Linked DNA regions of Homo sapiens. The protein of the gene in region 1 interacts with the protein of each later gene in a biochemical or structural test. Each region holds a gene or a part of one and is shown in the gene's direction. Other genes may lie near its edges.

Region 1 (3,515 bases):
CCTTTACCTGCCTGGTGGAATCAATCACTTAAGAGCCTCATGAGGAGGAAGTAAAGTCTATATCCTGTCCAACGTCTAGATGCTTTTGGTGTTTTCATTTTGAGCCCAATCCTGCCACCATGTGACAAAGAGCCAACTTCACAGTTGATTAAACTTAGACCTAAGTAAGAGAGGAGGGAAAAATCTCCATATGGAATAAATGTGATGGAAATGTGTGAAATGAAGGAACTGTCTCCTTACATAAACTATTTTTAAAACAATCCATAACTTTTCCATTCTCATATGTGTATAACAGTGCAGGTATGGTGGCTATGAGAATGGCCTCCAAGACCTCTGAATGCAGAGTGTAAATGACTGAGGACCCTGATGCTGTACTCTGAAAGTCAGCATTTGAGCAGTGACCACACTGCTGCTCCCAGCCAATGACTGAACAGGGCAGAGACAGTAAGGTTGCCCTGTTATGGGAGATGTCAGACTCCCCAGTATCCTTGCCAAAGTCTCCTTAGAACTGCATTGTCTAAGATACTTCCATTCAATGTTCCTATCTTCACAACCTCTCTCCTTAACGTGGGTTCCCACCTGTCTTATGCTCTGATGCCTCTGCCAGCCTTATCTGAGTCCCTGGCTCCTCTGCCTGGTACCTGTAGTAGCCCTTGACTGGTGTGACTTCCTGTCATTCACCCAGTGATAGTAAACATCTGCTTTGTATTAGTTTAGGGTCCTGGGCCCAGATAATTTTCTTTCCCTTTCTCCAAGGCGAGACAGCTTTTGCTTCTACCCTCTCTCAGAAGCAAAATATCTTTGCCTGTGTCTTACAGGTTGGAGGGTTTCTTGCTACTGCACCAGTAAAGGTTCTGCTTTATAAGGGAGAACAGTCTGAGAAGTAAATGGGGTTTTGTGCCTGTGTGCCCACCAGGGGCTCTCTTCCATCTCTTTCCTCCTCTCAGCATGAGAGGTCTGTGTAAAGGAGGCCATGAGTGAGTACAGATGATACTGTGTCTGAGACTCCCAAGGATTCTAAATTGTCATAATAGCACATATTCAACCTTTAATTAGTCATCAAAGTTTTAGTTGCTTTCTTCATTCACTCTGATGGTTGCTGCCTTTTTTTCCTGTGATTTTCTAAAGGTTGAACAGTTGATGTTTTCTGTATATCCTCAGAGGGCTTGAAACTCTCAACAGTTGAGTTCATTTGGTTGCCTTGTGAGGTCAAGTCTCTGTTGGTCTCAAGAAAATTATGATTTTGCAGATTATCTTTTTTTTTAATTTCAAGATTGGAAGCAATGTTCTCCTACAGCTTTCTGCATGTTAAGCAGAAGGGAAATGCCCTCTGATTATTTTTAAAAATCAGTTATATTCCTGCATCAGGTTTCATATTTTATGGGTGGGTATATCAGAGTCAGAAATAGAATGTATATATAAATCATATGTTATGTTCTAAGCATGTTAAATTATATTATCATACAGTTGGTCCTCTGTGTGATGGTCACTATTCTGTAAATTTATTGACTGAAAACATCAAGCAGCAATGGAATGTTCAGTTCAATATCAGTTAAGGCTTCCATAGCAGATTTCCCCTAGACAAAAATAAATTGTTTCTAGTATACTTTGTTTGGGTCATTCTTCAAAACAATTACCTTGTCCTTTCCACTAGGTGGTTGACCAGATTGACACCCTGACCTCTGACCTACAGCTGGAGGATGAGATGACTGACAGCTCCAAAACGGACACGCTGAATAGTAGCTCAAGTGGCACAACAGCCTCCAGCCTAGAGAAGATCAAAGTGCAGGCTAATGCACCGCTTATTAAACCCCCAGCACACCCGTCTGCTATCCTCACGGTCCTGAGAAAGCCAAACCCTCCACCACCTCCTCCAAGGTTGACACCTGTGAAGTGTGAAGACCCCAAAAGGGTGGTTCCAACTGCCAATCCTGTAAAAACCAATGGCACCCTTCTACGAAATGGAGGCTTACCAGGTGGACCTAACAAAATTCCAAATGGAGATATCTGCTGCATACCCAACAGTAACTTGGACAAGGCTCCAGTCCAGCTTCTGATGCATAGACCTGAAAAAGACAGATGTCCCCAGGCAGGGCCTCGAGAACGAGTTCGGTTTAATGAAAAAGTACAGTACCATGGCTATTGTCCTGACTGTGATACCCGGTATAACATAAAAAACAGGGAGGTCCACTTACACAGTGAACCTGTCCACCCACCGGGAAAGATTCCTCACCAAGGCCCTCCCCTCCCTCCTACACCCCATCTCCCTCCTTTCCCACTAGAAAATGGGGGAATGGGAATAAGCCACAGTAACAGCTTCCCCCCTATCAGACCTGCAACTGTGCCTCCTCCCACTGCACCAAAACCACAGAAGACGATCTTGAGGAAGTCAACCACTACAACCGTGTGATGTATGCCATTAAAAAAATTGTTTTTTTAATTTTCTATATTATAAACATAAAATAAGTAATGAGCACTTTCTACTCAAGCAATAAAAAGCCCAAATATATTAATCCTGCATTCAGCAAAGTGGCATAAAAATCACCTGGTAAGTATGCAGCACATTGCTTATATCCTGGGTATGCATTATTTTAAATGTTGTATCATTAAAAACCTCAGAATGATGAAAAATATGAATGATGCATTGTTTTTGCAATTGACCTATGACAAACTGTGAACCTGCAGATTTCACCTATTTTGATTTACTATAAGAGCTGGGATTTGATTCATTTTATTTATGCCTAAGTCATCTATGCATTAACATGTCATATTCTTAACTTTGATCTAATGCTTTTTACTAGGAAATTTTAATACTGAAGGACTATTTTATTATTTTTTTCTAAAGATGTTTGTCACTAGTTTTTCATTATTAAATGCTGAGGCCAATACCAAGAAGTTTATTTTCTATATTATACAATTATGAATTACATGCTCAGCTATATATGTAATAAAATACTTTGGTCTGTGGAAATATTGTTAAATCAATAAACAATAGTAAATAATGACAAAAGCAAATGTTCCTCAGAATTAAAATGAAGTAGTGGTTCATTTAATCTCACTTAACATTCCTCAATATGGGCAGCAAATCTGACAGAGTTTGGAGAAGTTACAGTGAGTGTATATCAGAATTTTCTAAATGAAATATCATATTCCACATCATAAATCAAAATCTACACACTACATATTTTATACTTCCATTTGGTACTTCAAGAGCCTTCTGTTGAACTCTCCCTATGTTGCCAAGCCCTCCTCATACTCAGCATTCTTCCAGGATGTACCCTAAACTATTACATTGAGGCTGTAGGGTGTTTTGCCTCCTGCATTAGCAAGCTCTCTGCCTCCCCAAGTGGACCCACATTTATAGGAGAATTATAGGGGGATATCTGAATGCTTCTGGTATCAGGATGTGTTCAGCATTTGGCGTAAGTTTTTCCCCCTCAGAGTTGAAAGATACCATGGGCCGTTGCTGTCTTCTAAAAGAAAGAGAAGAAATCTTTCCTTCTAACATCAAATAA
Region 2 (3,500 bases), on another chromosome or scaffold:
GAATGACCTGCAGCTCTGAAATCTCAATGGTCAGCAATTCTGGAATAATGGCCCATACTACCTGACACATGTGAAACTAATCTGTGGCAGAAAGACAATTTGTAAATGTATCATTGTATTTGTCTGCTCTCATGCTGCTATTAAAGACATACCCGAGAATGGGTCATTTATAAAGGTTTAATGAACTCACAGTTTTACATGGCTGGGGAGGCCTCTCAGTCATGGTGGAAGATGAAGGAAGAGCAAAGGGATGTCTTACATGGTGGCAGACAAGAGAGCCTGTGCAGGGGAACTCCCATTTATAAAATCATCAGATCTCGTGAGACTTACTATCTCGAGAACAGCATGGGAAAGACCCACCCCCATGAATCAGTTACCTCCTGCCAGGTCCCTCCGATGACATATGGGAATTATGGGAGCTACAATTCAAGGTGAAGTTTGACTGGGGACACAGTCAAACCATATCGATGATGTGGAGTGGACCTTTCCAATAAGTACTATATTTGCTATTCTGAATGCCTGTCCAAATATCAATGTACATAGCAGAGAGAATTAGCAGAGTAACTGGTAGTTCCATAAAAAATAAAGAAATCAAGGCAAATTACTCTTTTGCAGTTTTTTAAACATTTTGTATTTCAATAGCTTTAGGAATACACGTGGTTTTTGGTTACATGGATGCATTGTATGGTGGTGAAGTCTGAGATTTTAGTGCACCTGTCACCTGAATAGTGTACACTGTACCAAATAGGCAGTTTTTCATCCCTCACCCCACTCACCCTCCCCTTTTCTGAGTCTCCAAAGTCCATTATATTACTCTGCCTCTGCATCTCCAGAGCTAAGCTCCCACTTACAAGTGAGAACATGCAGTATTTGATTTTCCATTCCTCTGTTACTTCACTTAAAATAATGGCCTCCAGTTCCATCCAAGTTGCTGCAAAAGACATTTTTTCATTCTTTTTTGTGGCTGAGTAGTATTCCATGGTATATACATACCACATTTTCTTTATCTACCTATCAGTTGATGGGCACTTAAGTTGATTCCATGTCTTTGTGATTGTGAATTGAAGGTAAAGGATTTTGATTAGGTTGTACATATTAATGTATGAAGTCATCCCCATATTTCTAAAGTGCTAAACCTTTCCTATGCCCAAATATTTGCAAGTGTCAGGCTCAGGATTTCTCTTCCTGCAGTGGCAAGTTACTGCCATTAACTCCATCTCTTTTTCTTTACTGTGTACCATTGATCTTAGATCTTTGCTTTGGGCTGCTACTTTACACAGTGCACCTAATTCTATCTGGGAAGAACTTAGGGCATGGCTTGTGTGTGGTACAACCATTAATTAAAAATGAATTAGCAATATCTGATGATGCCTTTTCAAAGATTGGAAGGAACCAAACCTTCCCTAGTTTTCCCTTGGAGCAACATTTACTACCTGGTTTAAGGATAAAGGAAAGAGCTCTCATGCTCTTGGCAAATTACAAGATGGATAGTAACAAAAAAACCCAACAAACTAGAAATCATGTTTTGCCATAAAAAAATGGTATAATCAAAGTGATGTTTTTGTAAGCTCCTGGTGCTGAATGCAGTGGATGGAAACTGACAGTGGCTAATGCCTGTGTCTTCTTGCCCAGGCCAGTGAAAGACGTGTTCACCTCGTCGTGTCCCGCCAGGTTCGGCAGCGGAGCCCTGACATCTTTCAGGAAGCCGGCTGGAACAGCAATGGCAGCTGGTCCCCAGGGCCAGGGGAGAGGAGCAACACTCCCAAGGTGAGGCCTCTAGGGCAGGTCGCCTGCTCCTGCAAGGGGCTATTTCTTGGGAAGGCTGCTTGTTTTAACATGTCTAAGTGTCATCTCTGGACTTTTTTACTTAAAGAAACACTTTGACTTGTAAAACTAAAAGCCCAAAGTCCCATATTTAAGACTTGGAGAGATAACAGGTGTCTCCCATCCAAGCAGGAGAGAAGAAGGTGCAGGAAAGTTTTGAAACCTGATCATGCAGACCTCATACAGGGACCTGATTTCTAGCCTAAGCCAAATAAATGGCATGTTTTTACCAAGAGTCATCTTGTTTGAGGACTTATTTTATTCACTTTGAAATGAAGCAAGCAGTTTGCCTGGTTTCTGGCTTTTGAATTTTTCAGTCTGCCTAGAAATGAGTGATTTCCCCGCTACTTTTAGTTTTTGTTTGTGTTTGCCGAAGGGCCCAGGAAGATAATTTAAACACTTGAAGCTCATGTAACATTAGGGAGTGGTGGGGATTGGGGCAAACCAGAGAGCACATGTTATATGGCATTCAAATCCAGAAAACTCTAAAACACTGTGGATCTGTGGGTGGAATTCATTCTTCAGGCCACCAGTTTGCAGCCTCACTTTAAATGAAGTGACTCAGCCCAATTTGTACTTCTCTCTGTGGCTTCTATTAGAGGCAATGCCTTAACCTCTTCATTTGGATGCGTGTTTAAGCAACACAAACCTTGTTTAGTCCAAATTAAGAGTCCTATAGCTTTGGCTTGGCATCCTGTTGTGATGCTGATGAGCTTCTTTCAGTCATCTCTCCTGAGTTCTGGTTTCATGGCATCACTTGTAACTAAAAAAAATTCTTAAAGGTAGCTCATTCTTCTTGCAACAGAAAGTAGGGAATGCCCTTTTCTTTCTACGTCAATCTATATGTTGGTTGGAATAGCTTACAAATTGAGTTTTTGAGTAATATATAGAGAAACAATATTCAAATTTTTTATTTTGGAACATCTCTGCTTTATACTATGTTAATTACATAGCCTACAAGGTTATACACCCCTCCAGGTTCTCCAGCCAGCCAAGCCTCATAAATCCATAAATTACCTGTTTCTCTACAATAAGGAGTCTAGACAGACCAGATATATCCTGCTAAAACATTTTATGGATAAGGACTCCGTGATGTCTTTTTGCTAGTAAATGCTTAATGTTTAAATTTAACTGATCATCTTTATTAATGAAAAACTAGTTTATTAGCTTAATTAATTAATTGAAGTTTTTATCCAATTAACTAATTTTAGTTGAATTAACTAGAATACGTCATATTCTAAGTCATCAAATTATGGAGAAGGTAGCCTCCATCTGCACTGTGGTTTTAGAATTCCTTCCACCTCCTCATCATGAAAGAGCTGGGAGGATCTGGTCACATTTCTGCTGCAACCCTCTGTCATATGTCTTAATTCCTGGAAACGTGCAAACTGACTTAGTCGGAATTGTAATTATTTCCGTTTTAACTTATATTCTATCTGACTTCTGAAATATCCTCACAAAAAAGTAACATATTTAAAAAAACTGAGACATATATGGCTCTTTGATTATTTCAGTTTTTATATTCTTACTAAAATCTTGTTTGGTTTAGGAAACCAGGTAGCTTTTTAAAAATAAGAGCTTAAACAATTCAAAGAAATACCAAAGAAGACAAAGCAGGATTTGTGGGACAGAAAACTTTTAGCCAATTAAAAAAGTTAAGGAATGCTAGGCATCAA

Evidence for each region.
Region 2: the proteins of PRR16 (region 1) and LNX1 interact in a test that uses a peptide from one of them, tested with the Homo sapiens proteins (one large-scale study listed by IntAct).

Annotation. Positions count from the first base shown.
Region 1 is NC_000005.10:120,684,300-120,687,814, forward strand, and holds the end of PRR16 (protein Largen), read left to right. Parts: intron 1-1,654; coding exon 1,655-2,410; 3' UTR 2,411-3,015; downstream 3,016-3,515. UniProt on the Homo sapiens protein: Regulator of cell size that promotes cell size increase independently of mTOR and Hippo signaling pathways. Acts by stimulating the translation of specific mRNAs, including those encoding proteins affecting mitochondrial functions.
Region 2 is NC_000004.12:53,479,987-53,483,486, reverse strand, and holds part of LNX1 (E3 ubiquitin-protein ligase LNX), read left to right. Parts: intron 1-1,632; coding exon 1,633-1,767; intron 1,768-3,500.